Regions from separate parts of the Homo sapiens genome. Here region 2 is linked to region 1. A link means that fine-mapping ties the variant in region 1 to the expression of a gene that starts in the linked region. Tissue or cell type: subcutaneous fat. Region 1 holds a variant in brackets; the other region holds the start of a gene. All regions are shown on one strand. Distances are between the middles of the regions. Region 1 overlaps LOC101927566 (a long non-coding RNA gene). Region 2 holds the start of ZNF596 (zinc finger protein 596).

What was found. PIP is the estimated chance that this variant, and not a neighbour inherited with it, causes the effect.
Region 2: ZNF596 starts here. The variant in region 1 is fine-mapped to the expression of ZNF596 in subcutaneous fat (GTEx, PIP 0.95).

The regions. Positions count from the first base shown.
Region 1 is chr8:247,907-260,323 of GRCh38, reverse strand. LOC101927566 (a long non-coding RNA gene) reads left to right here. Exons shown (of 5, transcript XR_245320.4): 5 at 2,010-2,057. Among named protein-coding and RNA genes, the nearest start is that of ZNF596, 22 kb to the right of the region's middle. The variant T/C (reference allele first, on the strand shown) is at 6,601.
Region 2 is chr8:225,670-238,086 of GRCh38, reverse strand. ZNF596 (zinc finger protein 596) reads right to left here and starts at 5,631. Exons shown (of 6, transcript NM_001042416.3): 1 at 5,393-5,631. It also overlaps the pseudogene RPL23AP53. RefSeq lists an enhancer at 5,425-5,744 and a silencer at 5,765-5,864.

The DNA.
Region 1 (12,417 bases):
AATGATCCAAGCATGATATGGACAGGTTGAGACATGGGGATTCCCTGGATAGGATTTGAAACACCCATCACAGAAGTATTTTTTTACTCAGAGGGATACTTTGATTTATTAGAGTTGTTATTAAAGTGAATACAGTGACTCCAGTGACCACAAATAGTGTACAAGAATCTTCATCATCTTAGTATTAGTTAATAGCTAAGATTCGGAAGCAACCTGTGTCCATCAACAGATGAATGGATAAAGAAAATGTGTTATGTATACACAGTGGAGTACTATTCATCTATAAAAAACTAAGAGATCCAGTCACTTGCAACAATATGGATGGAACTGAAGATCTTTATATTAAGTGGATTAAGCCAGGCACAGAAAGACAAACATCACATGTTCTCACGTATTTGTGGGAACTAAAAATGAAAACAATTGGGCTGGGCGTGGTGGTTCACAACTGTAATCCCAGCACTTTCGGAGGCTAAGGTGGGGGTGGGGGCAGATCACGAGGTCAAGAGTTTGAGACCAGCCTGGCCAACATGGTGAAACCCCATCTCTACTAAAAATACAAAAATTAGCTGGGCATGGTGGCGGGCACCTGTAATCCCAGCTACTTGGGAGGCTGAGGTAGGAGAATTGTTTGAACCCAGGAGGCGGATGTTGCAGTGAGCCAAGTTCACGCCATTGTACTCCAGCCTAGGCAACAGGGTGAGACTCTGTCTCAAAAAAAAAAAAAAAAGAAAGAAAGAAAAGAAAACAATTGAACTCATGGACATAAAGAGTAGAAGGATGGTTACCAGAGGTTGGGAAGGGTAGTGGTAGAAGGGGGAGCTGGCAGGGGGGAGGTGGGAATGATTAATGGGTACAGAAAATAGAATGAATAAGACCTAATATTTCATAGCACAATAGGGTGACTATAGTCAATAATAACTTAATTGTACACTTAAAAGTAATTAGAAGAGTGTAATTGGATTGTTTGTAACTCACAGGATAAATGGTTGAGGGGATGCATTACCCCATTCTCCATGATGTGCTTATTTTACATTGCATATCAGTACCATAACATCTCATGTACCCCATAAGTATATATACCTACTATGTACCCACAATATTTTTTTTAATTTCAAAAAAAAGGTATTACAGGAAGTTCCTCACCAGAGAATTCCTCAGGTCCTCCACCCCTGCAGGGTGGATTGTTGTCAAACCCTCGGGGACTTTCTCTGATGGGAATACTGTGTGGCCCAAAAGGAGCCAGCCTATTAGAGGACTACTCCAAGAGCAGATGACATGTCTTCCAGGGACCTCATTGTTTACAATGAATGCAGCCATCTCGAGGTATAGAGCTTACCCAGGTTTCCTTTGTTTAGGACATATCAGTTTTGAGTTATAACAGATATAAGGAGGTCTGTTCCTGTAGCTTTTGTACTTGTAAAGATATTAGTTTATTAGCCTGTTTATTCTTTCTTTTAGCATTTTTTATGATTCTAAAAGTCTTTCAAAGCGCTTACTCGTAGTGACCAATTGGGTCATATCAATGACTTTCTATCCAATCTTATGTTTTTTAATCTGGTCTCCAAGCTCTGTTAAGAGTTTATTCATTTAAAAGGCTGTAAGGCATTTCAGTTGTTTCATTATGTATTTTAAGCCTAGAATGGTTTTATATATAAGATTTTAGTCCAGCTCTGTAATAAGGAACTGGTTTATCCTTTTTGTTTGTTTTCATGACTCGATAATGGACCAGGCAATTTTCTGTGGGAAGACAATGGGAATAGCATTTAAGAGGGTTTTTTTTTTCCTGATATCCTTTGTGCCACTCCTGTAGGAGTAGCTTTTGAGGGAACAGTAATACTGTTATAAATTTTGTTTTTTAATCTTTTTGAGACTGGAGTGCAGTGGCACAATCATGGCTCAGTGCAGCCTTGACCTCCTGGTCTCAAGCCATCCTCCCATCTCAGCCTCCTGAGTACCTGGTACCACAGGCACATGCCACCACATTCAGCTAACTTTGTTTTCTGTTGTAGAGACATGGTCGCACTATGTTGCCCAGGCTGGCCTGGAACTCCTGGGCTCAAGAGATCCTCCCACCTCAACCTCCCGAAGTCCTGGGATTACAGGTATGAGCCACTGTGCTAATCCTAACCACGGTTAAAATCTGACAAAAGTTCCCAATTCATAAGAAAATTTGGTTATATTTATTATATGTAGCATTTTATAACAACCAGAATCATGTCTTACAGCTTTGCATCAGGTCCCTGAGATCTTTATAAGTTGTATATAATCTTAGAATACTTACATTTATAACATATTTATATGAATATAACTTTAGAAGATATTTAACAAAACAAAAGTATGGCTGACAACAGATTTTCATCAATATATATGATTTTTGGAACATTTATGTCAGGAACATTTATATCAATAACATACCTATAAGTGTAACTGAAAGATCTTCCATCACTTATTACTTGATATCCTTTGTGCCCTGTGTGGTAAAATGTCGCCCATATATTTTACCAGATAAGTCTAACCATTTAATCTCTATAAGGTAAGAGGCAATATTTTTGAGGGTTTCCAGGGGTCAACCTTCAAAATCCCGAAGTTAGTTTTAGGCCAAAAAGACTTAATATAGGTTTTTAATCTTGAAGAAACCTGCCAAAGATGTCAGAAGACTCAAAACACTCAATCAAACAGAATCAGGGGTCACTGTTAAATAATAGCAATACAGAAGGTTACATAGATGTAAAAACATTAACCCTTTTATAGCTCTTTTCCTAACTAATCTAAAACCCAATTAAGACAAGGAAGGAATTGCCTTGATAACATGTACAATCTTTATTTTTGTCTTTTAGGCTAGTTGTGAGAAAGGTAAAGAAAAATTTCCTATAGTGTGATTGCTTTTGTTTATAAGAAACCCATTTAGATTTCTTGGAAGTTAAACCTAATGAAAAGGTTACTTGAATTTCATCAGACAGGTAGACAGTGTCCACGGCTATGAGTATATAGAGAAATGCAACCGAAAAACTGGTACCTTGGACAGGGAAATCCATGGCTGTTAGTAACCACATGAAAAGTTACTGGCTGGGCGCGGTGGCTCGCGCCTGTAATCCCAGCACTTTGGGAGGCCGAGGCGGGTGGATCACAAGGTCAGGAGATCGAGACCATCCTGGCTAACATGGTGAAACCCGGTCTCCACTAAAAATACAAAAAATTAGCCGGGCGTGGTGGCGGGCTCCTGTAGTCCCAGCTACTCGAGAGGCTGAGGCAGGAGAATGGTGTGAACCCGGGAGGCGGAGCTTGCAGTGAGCCCAGATCGCGCCACTGCACTCCAGCCTGGGCGACAGACCGAGACCCCGTCTCAAAAAAAAAAGAAGAGAAAAGAAAAGAAAAGTTATCTGACTGTATGGAATAATTTTGATATATCAAGAAAAACGGGCCAGCTTTGGTGGCTCACGCCTGTAATCTCAGCACTTTGGGAGGCTGAGGTTGGAGGGTCTCTTTACCCAGGAGTTTGACATCAGCCTGAAACATAGTGAGACCCCATCTCTATGAAACTAGAACTAAAAACTTAGCCAAGCATGGTTGGTGTTGTGGGAGGGACCAGGTGAGAGGTAATTGAATAATAGAGGCAAGTCTTTCCCGTGCTGTTCTTGTGATAGTGAATAAGTCTCATGAGATCTGATGATATTATAAGGAGGAGCTTCTCTGCACAGCTCTGTCTTTGCCTGATGCCATCCACCTAAGATGTGACTTGCTCATCCTTGCCTTCTGCCATGATTGTGAGGCCTCCCCAGCAAGGTGAAACTATAAGTCCATTTAACCTCCTTTTTTTTGTAAATTGCCCATCCTCGGGTATGTATTTATCAGCAGGGTGAAAATAGACTAATATTATAAATTGGTACCAGTAGAGTGGGATGGTGCTGAAAAAATAGCCGAAAATGTGGAAGCGACTTTGGAACTCGGTAACAGGCAGAGGTTCTAACAGTTTGGAGGGCTCAGAAGAAGACAAGAAAATATGAGAAAGTTTGGAACTTCCTAGAGACTTGATGAATGGCTTTAACCAAAATGCGGATAATGATATGGACAATGAAATCCAGGCTGAGGTGGTCTCAGATGGAGATGAGGAACTTGTTGGGAACTGGAGCAAAGGTGGCTTTTGTTATGTTTTATCAAAGAGACTGCCAGTATTTTGCCCCCGCCCTAGAGATATGTGGAACTTTGAACTTGAGAGGGATGATTTAGGGTATCTGGCAGAAGAAATTTCTGAGCAGTATATCATTCAAGATGTGACTTGGGTGGTGTTAAAGGCATTCAATTTTATAAGGGAAGCACAGTATAAAAGTTCAGAAAATTTGCAGCCTGGTGGGTTACTGACACAGTGCAGGCCCCTCCCACTGCGGCAGCTGAGCCTACTGGCAGGGCAGCCATAGTGTCACCACCTTATGTGACACCCACCTGTCTGACTGGCCGACCAGTGGGTTACAGGCCCCCCCTGTGCAGGACCCACCCTTTGTGGCAGTTAAGTCCACCCAAGCTGAGGTATCCTGGCGAGATCTTCACCTGGGTCCCATGGGGAAAATCAGTCAGCACCATATGTGCTCTGGTGGACAGGTGAGTGTCCCTTATGCCCCCATCGCCATAGTATCAGGAGAACTAGGAAATGAAATAAACGTCTTTGGCTAGAGCATGTCCTTGTCACCCCTTCCCTGAGTACTTTCTCTTCGGACTCCATTGTGTTGTTCCATTAGTTATTTTATTTTCAGTCCTAAAATGTGTGCAGTCTTATGTTTGGTTTTACCTTTCTGTTAATTGTTTGGGGACGATTAAGGCAGGATACTTGGTTGTGAGAGATCCCCACTGTTTTTACTTCGGGATGCTAGAGTCATGTTGTTTGCTGACCCCAATTTGGTCTTGGATTGACTGTTGGCCGCATTCTGGGTGCCCCAGGGTTTTCAGGATTTGGTGAAGGGACCCTTGTTGGCTGAAACTTGGGCCTTCTGAGTTTTCAACATTGGTATTCTGGCCACCCCCCATATGATCTGGAGTATTTGTGTTGACATTCCCTCTAGGATTCTGAGGGATATATGAGTTATAGCCCTCTCCCTAGGGGAGTATTGGTCTTGCCCTTTTCTGCCCTATAAGTTAGAAGTATTTTCCTAATAGCAAGCTGCTAACCCTTCCTTTATGCTGTCTTCCAACTAGCTTGCTCAAGCCACTCTTGGTCCAAGGAAATGGGAATTCCCAGGCCCCTGGCATAATGGAGAGCCACCTACAGTGGTAGGCAATTGGCCACGTGAATATTTTTTTCAGTGTCTCTGCTACGGGATAGGTTACCCAGCAGGTCAGGGCCTCTGAGGTCTCCCCTTGGGCAGCACTGTTTACCTCTTCCATTTCTCCCTTCCACAGTCCCTCCCTTCCATTTTTGAGCCCACCTCTCTACCAACCGTTGCTGTCTGTGGCATTTAGGTTCAAAATCCAACTGCCCATTTGAAGCTCATAATCCACTTTTTAAAAATTATGCTTTAAGTTCTAGGGTACACGTGCACAACCTGCAGGTTTTTACACAGGTATACACGTGCCATGTTGGTTTGCTGCACCCATCAACTTGTCATTTACATGAGGTGTTTCTCCTAATGCTATCCCTCTCCCAGCCCCCACCCTTGTCAGTCCCCAGTGTGTGTGTGATGTTCCCCACCCTGTGTCCATGTGTTCTCGTTGTTCAACTCCCACCTATGAGTGAGAACATTTGGTGTTTTGTTTTCTGTCTTTGTGATAGTTTGCTTAGAATGATGGTTTCCAGCTTCATCCATGTCCCTGCAAAGGACATGGACTCATCCTTTTTTATGGCTGCATAGTATTCCATGGTGTATATGTGCCACATTTTCTTAATTCAGTCTGTCACTGATGGACATTTGGGTTGGTTCCAAGTCTTTGCTATTGTGAATAGTGCCACAATAAACATATGTGTGCATGTGTCTTTATAGTAGCATGATTTATAATCCTTTGGGTATATACCCAGTAATGGGATCACTGGGTCAAATGGTATTTCGTGTTTTAGATCCTTGAGGAATTGCCACACTGTCTTCCACAATGATTGAACTAATTTACACTCCCACTGACAGTGTAAAAGCCTTCCTATTTCTCCACATCCTCTCCAGCATCTGTTGTTTCCTGACTTTTTAATGATCACCATTCTAACTGGTGTGAGATGGTATCTCATTGTGGTTTTGACTTGCATTTCTCTGATGACCAGTGATGATGAGCATTTTTTTCATGTGACTGTTGGCTGCATAAATGTCTTCTTTTTAGAAATGTCTGTTCATATTCTTTGCCCACTTTTTGATGGGGTTGTTTTTTTTCTTGTAAATTTGTTTAAGTTCTTTGTTGATTCTGGATATTAGTCCTTTGTCGGATAGGGTAGATTGCAAATATTTTCTCCCATTCTCTAGGTTGCCTGTTCACTCTGATGGTAGTTTCTTTTGCTGTACAGGAGCTCTTTAGTTTAATTAGATCCCAATTGTCTATTTTGGCTTTTGTTGCCATTGCTTTTGATGTTTGAAGGGGTGGCCTTCCCCTCCACACCTGTGGGTATATCTCACCAGGTGGGATGAGAGA[T/C]TGAGAAAAGAAATAAGGCACAGAGACAAAGTATAGAGAAACAACAGTGGGCCCAAGAGACCGGCACTCAGCATACAGAGGACCTGCACTGGCACCGGTCTCTGAGTTCCCTCAGTTTTTATTGATTATTATTTTCATTATCTCAGCAAAAGGAATGTGGCAGGAGAGCAGGGTGATAATAAGGAGAAGGTCAGCAAAAAACATGTGAGCAAAAGAATCTATGTCATAATTCAGTTCAAGGGGAGGTATATGCCTGGATGTACACGTGGGCCAGATTTATGTTTCTCTCCACCCAAACATCTCAGTGGAGTAAAGAATAACAAGACAGCATTACTGCAAACATGTCTCGCCTCCCACCATAGGGGGGGGTTTTCTCCTATCTCAGAATTGAACAAATGTACAGTCGGGTTTTATACTGAGACATTCAGTTCTCAGGGGCAGGCAGGAGACAGTGGCCTTCCTCTATCTCAACTGCAAGAGGCTTTCCTCTTTTACTAATCCACCTCAGCACAGACGCTTTACAGGTGTCGGGCTGGGGGACGGTCAGGTCTTTCTCATCTCACGAGGCCACATTTCAGACTATCACATGGGGAGAAACCTTGGACAATACCCAGCTTTTCAGGGCAGAGGTCCCTGCAGCTTTTCGCAGTGCATTGTACCCCTGGTTTATTGAGACTAGAGCATGGCAGTGACTTTTACCAAGCATACTGTTTGTAAACATTTTGTTATCAAGGCACATCCTGCACAGCCCTAGATCTCTTAAACCTTGATTCTATACAACACATGTTTTTGTGAGCTCAAAGTTGGGTCAAATTGGCTGGGGCAAAGTTACAAATTAACAACATTTCAGCAAAGCAATTGTTTAAGGTACGGGTCCAAATTGAATTTCTTATGTCTTGCCTTTCTACATAGACACAGTAATAGTCTGATCTCTATTTCTTTTCCCTACAATGTTTTAGTCATGAAGTCTTTGCCCACGCCTATGTCCTGATTGGTATTGGCTAGGTTTTCCTAATCTACTTTTGTAACACCTTGGCAACTATAGAAAGTGGGAAATGAAAAGGGAAAAGTAAGTATGCATTTGCTAAACTTAGGCTAACTAAAACCCCTTGTAGTGAGCCTTACTAGACATGGGGACAACAGTAAGCATTCAAAAAGACTCGCCACTCGGGTGTCATTTAGGCCATTGGAGTAGCTTCAAATTATTAGACAGGTTGAAAAAGAAAAACCTTGTTTACTATTGCAATAATGTTTGGATTCAATAAAAATTGATAAACCAACATATTTATTCTAGACACGGTTCTTTACATTATAATGATATCATACAGTTAGATTTGTTGTGTGAAAAGGAAATAAAATGGTAAGAAGTTTGCTATGTGCAGGCTTTTATTTCCCTCTACCAGGATCCTAATCTAAGGGCTAGCTGTAGAATGTGTCTGAAGCTGCACCAGATACCCTAGATGACCCCCTTTTAGCTGTTCCTCTGAGATCTGTGCTCCCACTTCAGAGCCTCCCCAGTCTCCTACTTTTGAGGGGGACCCCACTAGTTCTTTGGTGCAGAATTACACTCCAAAGTCATCAGGAACCCCTCCCACTTATCCAACAAGCCCAGGCCCCTATTCCCCGCTGCCTGAAGAAGCCAGGTTCAAAAGGCCCTCCAAGCATATGGAAACAAAGTATTCCCCCCTCCCCTATTCAACCAGGAGATTAATAAAAGAATTAACCCCCCTATTCAACCAGGAGATGCAGTTTTGCTGAAAACTTGGAAAGAAATATCCCCTGAAGATCAACTACAACCAAAATGGAAGGCCCACTATCAGGTTTTATTGAGTACTCCCACCACTGTGAAACTTCAGGGAAGAACCAGTTGGGTATACCTGTCCATGATTAAACCTGTTTCTGAGTCACAGGCACAAAAAGAGGACATCATGACCTACATCTATGAGTTTTTGGAAGACCTCTGGTACCTATTTAAAAGATTCAACACTCAGCTAAAAGTGGAAATGTGATGCTGTGGGTGGGAATAGGAGCTTAATTTTTCTCTTCTTCTTAATTGAACTTCTTTTATGTTGCTTTAGCCAACTTCTGCAAAACACCTGTTTTGTCCTTGTTGGGTATAGAGACCATGCTAATGCCTAGCTGGACACCATGTTGTCACTGTTGATGTTTGCTCTTCCAATTACCCTGATCCAGTGTGGGTGAGAACATAACTCTATAGTAAAGATTTCTAAGATTATAGCATCAGGGAATCATCTTCACAGTTGTTAGATTTGTCATCAACATCCCCAGGATAGAGAGTTATATCTTCTGGCTTACCTGGAAAATCTCATGACCATCCCCCCTGGCCTCCTAACTAACCATAGCAATCCAGAAATAATCAAACCCCTACTAGTTAAGTGCAGCTCTCACCCACTTAATGTATTCCACTTGAACCCCTCCTCCACCACTATTCCCTGGACCTGGGAAGTTAGATATCCATATCTCCAGTGCACAAATGATTCTATCCTTTGCTCTCACGTCTGTGTTAATGACACAAAAGTGGAGTGATGCTCTCTGATCCAACTATAGTTGTCAAGTTTCCAAGGCTGCAGTAAGTGGGATTCCACTTGTAAGTGAGAAGAAAACATATATGGTGATTTCTGGATCAGAACATACAAAGGAGAAATGACTGCCCAGTCCAGGAAGGTGGAAGTACTGCCCACTTCTGGGAAACAAAGATTATCTGACCACCCCCACTGGAACAGGGAGAAAATATCTCTATAGACCCAACTTGACAGCAAAGAATAAACATCATACCCCATAGGGCTTCTGTTTGTGGCCATGAACGGGAATAAATCAGAATCTGTAACCACTCCCAACTCTAGGGAGTCACCTGTTCTTTTAGGAGTAGCTTTTCTTTGTCAAGTACTTGGAACAGAAGTGAATGTACATTGCCCCCCCTTGACTCACCAGGGGTCACTGTCTATAACCCCAATAGACCCAAGAATACCAGAAGTAAGCAAGCGATAGGATTAATTCTGGCAGAAATGAGGGCAGTGATAGGATTAGCAGCACCCTGGGGCAGCTTTGTCTACCATGACTTAACTCTAAGGAACTTGACTCAAACCCTTAGAAAGCTTAGCCACTATCACAGGTCAGGCATTAAAGGGAAATCAAGTCCTTAGACTCTTTGGCAAATTTAGTTCTCTATAAGAGACTAGTGTTGAATTATTTACTAGCTGAACAAGGAGGAGTCTGTGAAGTTATTAGTAAAACCTGCTGCATGTATATTAACAAATCTGGACAAGTTGAGATTAACATTCAAAAGATCTATGAGCAAGTTACCTGGTTACATAATCAGGGCACTGACTCCCAACTGTATCTGGTCATCTATGAAAAGTACCTTCCCAAGTCTCACTGGTCTTTACCTCTCCTAGGACCTTTGATAGCTATCTTACTATTCTTTGTCACTTCCTTGTTTAACCTCTTAGTAAAGTTTGTGTCTTCTAGATTACAAAACTTCCAGGTAAAGACAATGCTGGCAGAAGAATTCCAACCATCCTGTTTACTGACCCAGAGAATGAAAAAGTGTCCTGCCTGTGGGTCCCTTAGTTGAGGTACCCAGGGATTTTTCTTTTTTCTTTTTTTTTTTTTTTTGAGACGGAGTCTCGCTCTGTCACCCAGCCTGGAGTGCAGTGGCATGATCTTGGCTCACTGCAAGCTCTGCCTCCCAGGTTCATGCCATTCTCCCACCTCAGCCTCCCGAGTAGCTGGGACTACAGGCACCCGCCACCATGCCCAGCTAATTTTTTGTATTTTTTTTAGTAGAGACGGGGTTTCACTGTGTCAGCCATGATGGTCTCCATCTCCTGACCTTGTGATCTGCCCGCCTCGGCTTCCCAAAGTGCTGGGATTACAGGCATGAGCCACCGTGCCCGGCCTGTACCCAGGGATTTTTACTCCTCCAGTGCTAGGCAGGGCCTATGCCCATAAGCTCAGCAGGAAGCAGTTACAGAATACAGACTTCTGCCCTTCTACAGCACCCTTAAGATTAAGGAGGAATATCTAATCTCTGAGGAGAGGATGAGGTAGGGGGTGGGACTTGACTCCAGAGGTAGGGCTCAGACACTGGACCAGATTGAGGAGTAGCTAAAACAAAGCCATAGCAAAAGCAACTTTCCAGAGATACCCACCAGTCTGCCATATCTATTTACCACTGCCATGGCAATACCCAGGGGTTACCTCCCTTTCCATGGCAATGACCTGATGACTCAAAACTTACTAGCCCTTATCTAAAAATTTCTGCAGGAACCACTTCTTAATCTGATATCAAAGGAAATCTGGCTGTGCATGTGTGTGCTCTTACTATGGGTATCTTATACCTCGGCATCAACACAGAAACCCAGGACTGGGAGCAGGGACACATGTGGCACAGGGAGAAAATACACTGACTTCTGTCACAGGCCAAAAGAGCCGGGCCTTATGGTCGCATGTGGTAAATGAGGCAGCTGACACCAATGGATTTAATGTGATGTTAAGCTGTGAACAGTGGAGAACTTTTTCGTATAGAAATAGTCATTATTGTGAAAATTCTGATTTAATTATTTCACCCATAAAAATAGAATAAGCATTATTTGGCTTAAAATATTTGAGTAAAAAATTTTTGTTCCCAGCATGACTGTGGATGTTATTGGACCAACCCACCATTAACAGTAACAAAACTTAAACGAAATACATGAAACAGCTGCTTTAGGCATGAGGGTAGCCTGTTCGGACAGGATTTTCTGAGGTAGAATTCATGAGAAAGGGGAGAGTCAATGAAGTATCACACTGGATTTTCTCAAGCACTTGAAAATTAACATGAAGGGAACATAAGGTCCCAGAAGAAAGATGGCCTGTCTAGGCGGAGGAAAAATAAGCTGACATTTTTGTTTTGTGCAAAATAGTGGGGTTTCTGCTTCTGGGTAGGATGGAGTGAATAAAGATGAAACAAAAAAAGAAAAAAAAAACAGATTAATTTAAAGTGTAAGCTTTAGAGGCTAGAGAGGAATATATAAGCTAAGATTCCATAAATAGCCCTTGTGAGAAGTGAGAATATTAAACATTTACACACAGAACAGAAAGGTTCTTAAAGAAAAAAAGCCCATGGCAACAAAAATCTCTGTTATGATGCTCATACCTGATTCTGGGAGACATTCATGCAAATGTAACCACAATTATCCAGCACTGCCAAATTATATTTAAATAGATTCATTTGTAATTAGTTTTATTTTTGCAATGTTAAATCATATAATATATTGCCTATACTTATCAATACTGTATTATATACTTAAAAATTTGCTACAGGTTGCTGTGATGTAAGTGGTTTTATCACAAAGAGAACAATGAAAAATGAGGGAAGGAAATTTTGGAGAGAATGAATGTTTGTGGCACAGATGGTGGTGGTGATGGTTTCCTGGGCTTATCCTTATCTCAAAACTTATTAAGTTGTATACATTAAGTAACAGCTTTTGTCAATTACACTTTGATAAAGTGGTTTAAAAACAAAAAGGCAAATTTAAGCACCATAAGACTGTACTTTTAAAGTGAGTCTTTCATAATCCATGTTTGACTTAATCATTACCATGTACATATATACCACTACTATAGTTAGGACCTATAATTTTGTGTTCTATGTGTATTAGTTCCATTGAATGTCACTGTCTTTTTGTTTTGAGCCAGAGTCTCACTCTGTTGCCCAGGCTGGAGCGCAGTAGCATGATCTTGGCTCACTGCAACCTCCATCTCCTGGGTTCAAGTGATTCTCCTGCCTCAGCCTCCTGAATAGCTAGGACTACA
Region 2 (12,417 bases), 22 kb after region 1:
TAGACTGAAAGGCATGTCCATCCTCATGGGCAATCTCAGGATTCTCTAAGTCCTCCAAGGAGGCCAGCAATGGCTTATGTGGGCCTGGGTCACCCCTGCCAGCAGGGACTAGTACTAAGGATGAGATCCACCAATGGCCACAGCTGAGTTATGCCAAATGAGATGTCCAGACCTCATGGTGCCTAGGAAGACAGATGGCAGAAGCTCAGCCAGGCCATGGAGATTAAAACAGTGCTAGGGGCTTAATGTATGTTTTTAATGGGTCTGCTACATGTCAAGTTTGGATCTGGAGTCCAGCCTATAATCCTAGCAAAAATTAAACACCAAATATGATATTCAATAAAGTGTATGTGGCTAAAAACATACGTTGGAAATACACATAACTAGAAACATCCAAATTCAAAGAGAAACTGCTAATTCCACAAACATGATAGAGTAATTTAATAATGAGATCACACATACATAAATAGTAAATATGAACTGTATATTTATCTGAGTTCTAAAGACTTTTTTTTCCGTCTCAGTACACTAGTGGGTATACGTCACCAGTAAAATCAAAGGGGTATTCCAATTACATTCATGATATTAATAAGTATGATAAATGTAAGTAGCCAGAACCATGGAATTGGGGCTACAGCTGTGATCTTCAAGAAACGTAAAACTTTAAAAACACTCATAAACCAAGAAAAAGATAAAACAGGAGTTACTTGACTTTCCAAATTGTTACAAATTCAGTACATATTAATAAGACTTAAAAAGATAAAACAATTTAATAAATAATAAAATAATGTAATGAATGAACAGATTTGACAGAAATCAATAATTAAAAAGTTTTGAGAGCAAAATCATGAAACTGAAAAGACCCACGGTGGAAAGAAAAAACACAGGTTAATAAAAGAGACTGTATTTATTTAAAAGTAGTAATTTAAAATCTAAGAAATGGGAATAATTATATTCCAACATGAATATGTATATTACTTTCCACAAAAAGAGTAAAAACTTTCCCTCATTAATCAGCACAAAAATCTGATTAGCCAATTTTAATGTTTAAGTTATATATCAGAGTTTAACTGTAAAAGTGATTTGTGAGAGTTCTTACATGTGAAATCACTTCTAGTTCCTTTGTAACCTAAGTTATTTTGAAGGAGAAAAATAAGCCTGTCCTCATTAGTTTATTATGCTAATCAAAATGAACATGAATGTAACAATAACTACAAATTTAACCAACAATTTTCCTTACTTACATTTGCAAAAATCATCAATACAATTTTAGCCATTTGGCTATTTATTTTGGCCACCTGGCCATCACTGGTATGGTTAAATAATGACAGAGCATGGTAAAGTGGAGTTTATTGCAATAATAAAAGGATAATTCCATACTAGAAAACCTATCATTTTCACAAAGTAATTTTAAAGATTAAAAAAATCACATTAATAGACCTTTGAAAAAACATTTTCATATAATTTAAATCTTTAAAAATAATATAAAATCTTTAAAAATCATACCAAATTGTGGGGACTAATTCTTCTTAATCAATAAAATCTCAACAATATATTCAGCAGTTAACAAAAGAACCATTTCCACTAAAGGTAAGGCTGGAAAAAGGAGGCTGGGTGAGGCTGATGCCATTCACCACTGCACATGATGCCTGAGGTGGGACCAAAACAAGAGGGAAAAGGAGAGGGACTACAAAAATGGAGTCAAAGAGCTGCAACTGTAGTTATTCTCAGATGACGTGACTGTAAACTTGAAAAAGTGGAATCAATTCTAATTATCAATACTAATAAGAATATTTAAAAAGTGGGCAAAACTATTATGAATATTCTGAAATCAATATTTCCTGTTTAGCAACATTAGTCCTTAAAAAAAGCAAACACACAAAATCAGTGTCTATTTACAACAGGCAAATATTATGACTACGATTTGAAATAAATTTGTAGACCCATGTAAATAAATTTTAAAACTTAATGAGGATATAAAAATGACATGAATAAAGCCTGAAAATCCTATTATTAGAATGGAGGACATAGTGACATAAAACCTCAGTGACTGTAGACTCAGGGCAACCTAGACTTAAAAGTCCCATGTGGTCTTTTACATGTAAAAAATGAGAATTAGTCTAAAAGTCAATTTTGTCTAAATTTTGATTTTTGGTGAGTATACAGTCAAAATAGTTGTGAAAAGAAAAAAATAAAGTTGTCAAATTTCATGTAACCTATGTTATTTGGAAATTTAAAATAAGTCATATAAATATTTATAACAATATTAAACAATTTCATAAGTGGACTGAATAAAACATAATATTTTATCATATACAATAGCTCCTGCCTTCCTGAGGAAAACATAAAATCAAAGGGCGTGAAGGAAGGATTTTGGTTTCACTGCAGAAACATAATAAGACACCGAAGTGTGTGTTTGTGTGTGCGTACATATAATTAAACTACAGAATATAAAATAGCATCTAATATACATCAAAAATGAGTTTCATAGAAAAATTCATTTTACACATATGTCTATAAAATAATAAAATTTATTCAGCCTCACAATTACTTTGTGAACTGGAAATAACAATGAGTTGTCATTTTATCCAAATCTAAAAAAAAAAAACATACATACAGTATCAAGTTCTGGTTAAAGTAGTAGATGAACTTTATGTGGTACATAAGAGTATCTATACAGTTTGTGGGCTGCATCTTGCTAGAATATATTACATTATAAAATGCACCATTTATTTACTCTGCGATCAAACCCCCAACTTGCCCCAAGTGGAGGAACCCTCAGACATTTGCAGAGCAGTCAGTGTGCTAGTAAGCAGCATTCTTTACAAATCTATGAACATCAAGGTCTCCTTGGAACAGATGTTCTGTGAACAATTTATAAAACTCCCTCCTGTTAGACACTTAGGTTGATTCCATTTTTAAATCAATTACTGAATAAAACACACTCCATCGTGTGGATGAAATGCTACCTTAATTTGTCAAAGCTATCATTTTCTAAACTTTTCTTTTTAATTCAAATCATTAATATTTTGTGGCCAGATCAATACTGATTCATTGTTTTAAGCTTCAAATGCATTATACAGTTGGGCAGAACACATTTCCTCTCATCAATCTTCTTTTCCAGGATTTGTCAGATATTCCTGACATTAATTCACTACTAATATGCACAGTTTCTCTAATCATGGTCAACAAAGATCTGACAGTGCATTGTCCCTAAACGACCCATACTTGCCTCACTGACACCATGTGGCCCACTTCCCATCTATAATCTATGTCTGGGTGTGAAGCCCTTCCCATATGATCCCCCGAATGGAACTTCACAAGTTCGAATTCACTGGGTCACAGTGTGATAGCGTGAAGATGGGAGGACGTTAAGGGAAGGCTATGGGTGAGTTGGGAAATGTGTTAGGCAGGGTCAGAGATTACCACATCCTAAAAACAACACTTAAGGCGGGAGATGACAAAACAATCAATGAATAACATGACTTTTTCCAGTGAAAGTGCCATATCTAATCCTTTTCCATTTTTGTTCTCTGAGCTTCTTTCTTAGGGAAGATCCTTCTTGAGAAGCCCCTGCTGAGTATTAGGAAAATGCATTTCAGGACCTCTCATCAACACACCCTCTTTCTTTACCACAACCACATATATGGGGGCATAACTCAACATGTGTAAAAGACAATCTTCTGCTTTTCACTGAACCTCCAGGAATTCAGGACAATAAACCTCTACATGCAGACCAACAGGTGAGTTTTTCTGCCCCTTCTTTCATAACACCGTTCTTCCCTAGTGAAGTCCACACACATCCTTACATGGCAGCTGTGGGTATATCAACTGGTCTGACCCCTTTTAGTCACAGAGCCTGAAGTCTGCTAGTACCTGCTGAGCACAGTGTCATGGGTGAGAATGGGCAAGGCTTTTTCTTTCTCTGGTTCCTGAACTTCCCAGGCTCTCTCACTTCTGGATCCTGAATACCCAAATCCCAAGCTTCCTTCCCAGAACCAACACCTCCTCCTCATTAGAAAGATACCTTTGTTGTGTGCTTACTTTATAAAGTCTTGCTCTTTCCCTGTCCACTGCCTTGTGTCACTATGTGTGTGTCTTGGGGCCGGTGGAAAGGTGAACAGAAGCCAGTAGAGAGTAACAAGCACCAGCTTCACAGGAATGGCATGACCTTAATACGATAGTGGCAGTTTTCCCTTAACATCCCTGCCCCCTAAAGATTTCAGATCATATGTCACACTCTTAAGTAACAGCGATTTGTCTTTCACGGTTTTAATCATATTGATTAAAAGCATTTGTCTTCTCCAGAACATCACATTAAGTCATCAAAAAATATAAACCTTAAAAAGATGTAATTATTGGAACTGAAAAACATAAAAGGTGAGCTTTGGAAATATCTTTGAGCAGTCTATTCATTATGAACACATGTAATCTGTTGGAACAAAGTTCTAGGACAATCCAGGTCATCCTTCAATATTTGCAGAAAACAGCACAAAGAAAACTTGATACTTAAACTTAGTTGGAAACTTTATGCCACAGCCATTAAATACAGAGATCATATAAAGGAATAGAGGAAGCTGTTGAATACTAAACTAACTCAAATCATCATTATCCTTACGAAGTGCACACTGAATTAATGTAAAAAGCATTTAGTAAACAAAAAGTATTTTCAATATACAATTAAGACTGAAAAGTATTGAGGCCTCATAAGCTGAACCTGACACAATAAATTTAAAAGGGAAACTAATTTGGAAATCAGAAAACCATCTAAAGAATTTGGGAATTAGGCTTCTGCTGCCCTCTCTGCTACTGACGGTCAAGGCCTCCTCATTGTATTCTGTCCTCCATATCTCTGCTGATTCCCATTTTGTCTATTTCCATTTACCCCACTACTACTTGCTCAGGTCACTCTCCTTCATTGTCGGTGTTTGTTCAAATTCCTCAGACCCATCCACTTCCCATCTAAACTTCCCTCCCCTTTTCTCGCTCGTTGGCTCTACCTCCCTCCTCTGTTTTCTCCTCACTCTCCTGCCCCACCTCGACATCCACAGCGAGGCAATGAAGAAGCCCCTGCCAAGGAAGAGCCCGCTTCTCAGTGGGACACCGGGAAGGTAAACACCCAACAGTCACCGCTAGTGGGAGGCGATTGTGCAGAAGCACGAGGGTTGTTACAGGATCGGGCAGGTCCCCTACCCCAGTCTCGGACTCAGGGTCCTGTCTGAGGCGGCCACCCCGAAGCGTGGGGTTTGCGGAGACGTAGGGCCTGGCGGAGGGAAGGATGGGGAAGCATCTCAGGGAGGACTGGCGTCTGCCGAATCCCAGGGCTGCCCTGAGGGGCCAAGAGGGGCGAGGGTGGGGACGATGGAAGACAAGCCACATGCCGAATCGGGACCTGAGGCCGCGCGCGATAGGATGGGCGGACGGTGAAGAGAACTAGGGTGGAAGGGCCGGACAGGGGCGACCTCAGTGACGGAACCGGACACAGACGCAGATCTGGCAGCTGGGCGACAGGCTTCGGAGCATTTCCGGGCGTCGCGGGACTCCCCGCCGACAGGAGGGCGGTTGCCGAGCCTGTGACATCCGCGGAGACCAGCAGACCCCGGGTGTGGAGGACGCCGCAGGAAGGGAACTGCGTGGCTGGGTTTGGCCACAAAAAGCGGAGGGCACTCACCCGAGCGGACCTCGGCTCCGGAGAATCCGTTTCCGGGTCAACAAAAAACGTCGCGCGAGGGGCGGGGCCCGTACGTGCAGGGAGGGGAGGCAGAGAAAAAGGCGGGGCCGGGCCGGGGCGGGGTCTCGGGCAGGGGCGGGGAGCTTACCGACCTCCCGCCCCCGCTGCGCGCGTTTCTGGCCCTGCCAGTGTCTCCGCCGGTTGAAAGCGCGTGTCTGCGTCGGGTTCTGTTGGAGTGCGTTCGGTGTGCCGTGGGTCCGCGCTGCTTCCACCCAACTTCCTGTTAGGTAAGAGGCGCGTGAGGCTCCTGTGCCGGGGGCGGTGCTGCTCCCGAGTCGGCGCGCGGCGGGGACGCGAGTCCGTAGGTGCTGGCGGGAGCGAGAGTCGGGTGGGGACCCTCGCGAGCCCGCACTCCGCCTCTGGGTAGCAGCCTCTTCGGCCCCACACGGCGTGACGCGCGCTCGGGCTCCGCGTTCGCGTCGAGGCAGAGGCGTAGTAGGGGTCGGGCCCAGGGCTGGAGGGGCCGGGACCGGGCGGGGTGCCGCCCTGGACACCGCGCCGGCAGCTGTTCCGCGCGGGTTCATGTCATTCCTATTTTCAACCTGTCCTGCTCCGCACCTGAGATGATTTATAAATTCGGTACCTTTGGGACAGGCGTGGATGACATCCCATAATTTACTTCGTTATTAATTTCTAAATGTAATACATACCACTATCTAAAAGTATTTTTTAATTTGAAATATATTTGTATACGTATACATGTATATTTATTTATTTCTGAATTTTATCTCGTACATATAATGAGGCTCGTAAAGTGGATACTGTTCAGGACATAGGTGGATTTTGCTTTTAAGTAGTAAAGACTTAATTGGTGACTTACTGGGGCTATTTGATAAGGATTTTTTTTTAATGAACATTAAAAACAGTGAAATTGTATTTCCGGATTTCGTTAGCTTCATTTATATCTTAATTGGTGAAAACTGTAAGTTAATAACTCATTTTTATTTCCTTTGGAGATTCTTAAGTTTGTGCTACCAATGATTATTTCCAAAAAAGGCACACTTCTGGTTTTCCCAGAACTAATGCTAGCTTCTCAATCTTTTGAGTTTACTTGATATTAATGTTTGACCTCAAATCATGTCACATTTTTGAAGAAAACTTTCTCTTAGCCAATGGAACATAAACCACCCTGGAGTTCATATAGAGGAGGGGTTCAAATGCCTCTGATAGTGTCGTGTTAAAACTCATGGCCAAACGCAAGGTCACATAGCTTTCTTTCTATGTTTCCCTCTAGAATTTGTATAGTTTTGTCATTATAAAATGGGTCTTGTCCTAGACCCCAAGAACAGGTTTTTGGATTTCACATGGGAAAGACCTTTTGGCAAGTCACAGAGTATAGTGAAGTTAAGATAGTTTATTAGTGACTACTCAGCTACATAGCAGGGCGTCCTCAGAAAGCAAGAGGAGAAATGCACCTGTTGTAAACATATAATTTTTTTTTGAGACAGAGTTTCTCTCCTGTCACAATGGCATGGTCTCGCCTCACTGCGACCTCTGCTTCCTGGGTTCAAGGATTCTCCTGCCTCAGTCTCCCAAGTAGCTGGGATTACAGGTGCGTGCCAATATACCCGGCTAATTTTTTGTGTTTTTGGTAGAGACTGGGCTTCACCATGTTGGTCAGGCTGGTCTGGAACTCCTGGCCTCAAGTGATCTGCCTGCCTCGGCTTCCCAAAGTGCTGGGATAACAGGCATGAGCCACCCGGCGCCCGGGCTTAATGTTTGTTTATATAGGTTATTAAGAATCAGTTTGTGACAGGCTATTAGTATTGTTACTTCTCTTTGTTACTGTCGATTTTAACAACAATTTATGTGTGTACTGTTACCTTTAAAGTAAAACTTATTTTTAAACTAAGAATGCTTTTTGTTCTTAAAGTTCTGGGACATTTAAATAACTTTCATGTCTTTATTAACTTGTTCCCACAATCATAAATATTTTATAACGAAAAGTGCTCAACCCCCGAAATATATAATCCAACAAATTTAACGTGTGTGTGTGTGTGACAGAGAGAGAGAGACAGGGTCTCACTCTGTCGCCCAGGCTGGAGTGCAGTGGTGCGATTATGGCTGGCTCATTGCAGCCTCGAACTCCTGGGCTCAAGCAATCCTCCCGCTTCAGCCTCCTGGGTAGCTGGGACTACAGGTATGTGCAAGCATGCCATCTAATATATATATATATTTTTTGTAGACATAAGGGTCTTGCTATTTGCCCAAGCTGGTCTTCAACTCCTGATCTCAAGTGATCCACCCGCCTTGGCCTTCCAAAGTGCTGGGATTACAGATGTGACCACTGCACCCTGCCCAGATTTAACTTTTTAAAAGCCTTTATTTGAAATAAAGTCACTGTGGTTAAGAGGCCTCTGACGGTTTTGCATTTTAAGTCTGAGGACTATGTTGAGTGACTTTTTGCATAAGTTGTAAAATGTGCATTCATGTTGATTTCATTTCCTATGGTTTCCAATTAATTGTCCCTTCTGCATTTTTAGAAACTCACGGGCTAATGGGCTCTGTGTCAGTTTGCATTTCTAGAATGATGGCGCCGAACACTCCATGCTGTCTTTTAGTTGGTGCAGCAGGAGGGGTAGCAGAGGGCGCTCAGCTTCCGACAGTGCCTTGAGCTCTAGGGCGCTGCAGTGCCCCCGGCCGCCAGCAGAGCACGCGCGAGCCCGGCTTTTCTGAGCCTTGAGGCGGCCGCATCCCGCACGCTTCCTCCGCGCCTGCACCCTGCAAGGGCGGGAGCCGCGTTCTCCTCAGCACATACCAGGAAACGCCCCTCGCTTTGGGACACCTTGAGCCGGCGGCGTCCATGGTTGAGTAAAATCCTTCCTGTTTTCAGCCCTGACTGCTGAGGGGTAGAGACCCTTCATGTGGAAAATTAGAAACCAAAATCCCCTGTGAATCCAGCGCACTCGAGGTTCATTCTCCACACCCAAGGCGAGGCGGCCACAGGGCCAAGCTGCGGTCTTGGAACAGAAATGTAGTGTCAGGAAAGCAACTAGAACACCCGCCACACTGACAATAACCTCTGTAGTGCTAATAACACTGCATCTGTGATGCTAGTGTTAGCACCCGTCGTATGCAGAGAGCACACCCGTCGGGGTAGCTGCCTTCCACATCCAACCCCGGGAACGTGGATGTGTCCCTCAGTGCGCACATAACGCTTGGAACGCGGAGATGACATCGTCACCTAACGCTACAGCCGTCACACTCATATAACCCCCGGAACACGCATGTGTCCCTCAGAGCACACACGTAACCCCTGGAACGCCCGTGACACAGTCAGACTCACGCCACACCCGTCACACTCATATAACCCCCGGAACACGCATGTATCTCTCAGAGCGTACATACCGCCCGGGATGCAGACATGGCCTTTGCAGCCCACACGAGAGGGTCTGCAGCTCTGAGGATGGAACCTTCCGGCTCTCGCTGGGGCGCTGAGTTGACAGCCTCTGCTGGGCTGGGTTTGGGCTGCATTTGGCCTCTGTCATGAAACTTCATGGTGTTGTCTCTGGCTTACTGACGTGGTATTGCCACGGTTGTTTTAAAAAGTAGTTTACTTCCCAATAATGTCATACTTCTGGGAAACTTGCAACAGCACTTAGTATGCCTTCTCCTTGATCTCCAGTTCCCCAGCCGTTATTGCTGTGCCAGATTTGCAGCTTCACAAAAAATACCCCCGTGTGTTTCACCAAAACCAGGAATACTCCTCCAGGTGATCCCCAAGTAACCCCCAATTTAGGAAATACATGGTTTCTATGTGAAAGTCCACTCCACAGACCTATTTCACTTCACTCCCTGCCCTAGGTGGGAGAAAAATGTCTATTTCCATGCGGGCCCAATTTTCCTTCTCGGGAACTGTTCCTGAGACTCAGTGTTCTGTTTTTTGTTTTTTTTGAGGGAGTCTCCCTCTGTCACCCAGGCTGGAGTGCAATGGCGCCATCTCTGCTCATTGCAACGTCTGCCTCCCATGTTCAAGATATTCTTTTGCGTCAGCTTCCCGATAAGCTGTAATTACAGGCACCTACCACCACACCCGGCTAATTTTCTGTATTTTTAGTAGAGATGGGGTTTCACCATGTTGGCCAGGCTAGTCTTGAACTCCTGACCTCAGGTGATCCATTCGCCTCAGCATCCCAGTGTGCTGGGATTACAGGCGTGAACCACTGCATCCGGCCGACTCTCAGTTTTCACAGCCTTAACAGATGTAAAGAGCAGAGATGACTCCAAGCTGGGTCTGCCCAGCGTTTCCTCCTAAACGTGTGCAGATCCTGTGTTCCTGGCAGGAGCATCCTGGCGTGGTGCCGCGCTCTCCTCACTGCAGCCCACTTGGAGGAGCACCCGTCCATCCCACCACCACTGGCGATCTCACTTGGAAATGGCAAATATTCATTTACAATCACAAATTTCATCCTGTCAAGCTTCGGATTTCACTTTGCCAGTGGTTTTCACTGGCCTTAGAACCGTGGACTCCAGACACCGAGTTCTCCTGCCTGCTGTCCTCTCCCATCCAGTCTGCTACAGCTGCCTGCAGTCCCACTCATGGGGACATGGACTCCCAGGTGTCTTGGGGATTTTATGTGGGTTCCCTCAACCCATTCACCCAGTGCTGACCGTAGTTTTTTAAGGCTTTTTCTAGATAAGTCCTTCAAGTCACAGCAATTACGATATCTAAAAGTAGAAAAGTTAATGTTGATTTTCTAAAGACAAAAAAATAATTCATTATTAGATTGTCTGTGAGACGACCGTCAATTTTTTTTTTTTTTTTTTTTTGAGGATAGAATCTCCCTATGTTACCCAGGCTGGAGTGCAGTGGCATGATCTTGGCTCACCAGAGTCTCCACCTCTCGGGTTCCAGCGATTCTCCTGTCTCAGTCTCCTGAGTAGCTGGGACTACAGGCACCTGCCACCATGGCTGGCTATTTTTTGCAATTTTAGTGGAGATCAGGTTTCACCATGTTTGCCAGGCTGGTCTTGATCTCCTGACCTCCAGTGATCTGCCTGCCTTGGCCTCCCAAAGTGCTGGGATTACAGGCCTGAGCCACCGTGCCCAGCTGCCCTCAATTTATAAATCAAGGAAATACTAGTTCTCTGGAACCAAAGTTCATGTTTGAAATAATTAGGAAAGAAAAATAAAATCTCATTGCTGAAAGAAAGACAAATAGCACAATTGATTATTGAAATTGCAGAAGAGGGCTGGGTGCAGTGGCTCACTCCTGTAATCCCAGCACTTCGGGAGGCTGAGGCAGGCAGATCACCTGATGTCAGGAGTTCGAGACCAGCCTGGATAAGATGGTGAAATCCCATCTCTACTGAAAATACAAAAATTAGCCTGGTGTGGTGGCATGCACCTGTAGTCCCAGCTGCTCAGGAGGCTGAGGCAGGAGAATCGCTTGAACCCAGGAGGTGAAGGCTGCAATGAGCCGAGATTGTGCTACTGCACTCCAGCCTGTGTGACAGTGAGACTCCGTCTATAAAAAAAAAAAAAGGAATTTCAGAAGAATTTACTGGACAGACTGTTACGTTGCTGTGTTCTGTAGCCCTGTGTTAACAGTTACAAGGTATTTTAGGTTTAAACACTTATATTTTAGTCATTCGCTATAGTTAACTATCAAAAAGTCCTGTCCACATCATGACAACCTATATAAAATTTGGAAACCTCTTCATCTATACAATGGAAAATTGGTAAAGTAAGTGTAGATGTTTAAGCTGATGAATTATTAATATTTAGGTACTGAAATGAGTGAGGGAATGTGATTATGTCATAGTTCTGGCATGGGACTTGGCGGGGCTCCCTCTGTTGCCTCTTGGTGGACGGCAAATTCGTGACCTGTGGAGACTGAAGGATAAACTGTCACCTTCATCGGAAACCCCAGTCCAGAAGGAAAGTCCTCATTTCAGGATATGCCACTTCGTCCCATGCATTTCCTTTTTCTTGTTCTGTTTTTTGGAGACAAGTCTTGCTCTTTTGCCCAGGCTGGAGTGAAGTGGCCTGATATCGGCTCACTGCAACCTCCATCGCCCAGGTTCAGGCAATCTTCCTTCCTCAGCCTCCTGAGTAGCTGGGATTACAGGTCTGTACCACCACACTGGCTAATTTTTTTTTTTCCTTTTAGGCGGAGTTTCGCTTTTGTTGTTAAGGCTAGAGTATTATGGTGCGATCTCGGCTGACCGCAACCTCTGCTTCCCAGGTTCAAGCGATTCTCCTGCCTAGGCCTCCTGAGTAGCTGAGATTACAGACATGCACCACCACGCCCAGCCAATTTTGTATTTTTAGTAGAGATGGGGTTTGTCCATGTTGGTCAGGCTAGTCTCGAACTCCCAACCTCAGGTGATCCGCCTGCCTCAGCCACCCACAGTGCTGGGATTACAGGTGTGAGCCATCTTACCTGGCCCTTTTTATTTTTATTTTTATTTTTGAGACAGGGTGTTGCACTGTTGCCCAGGCTGGAGTGTAATAGTGCGATCTCAGCTTACTGCAACCTCCACAATATGGGGTCAAGCAGTCCTTCTTCCTCAGCCTCCCAAGTAGCTGGGACTGCAGCTGTGTGCCACCATGTCTGCCACCATGTGCCACCATGTCTGGCTCATTTTTGTATTAGTAGACATGGGGTTTGGCTGTGTCGTACTGGCTGGTCTTGAACTCCTGGGCTCAAGTGATCTGCCTGCTTCAGCCTCCTAAAGTGCTG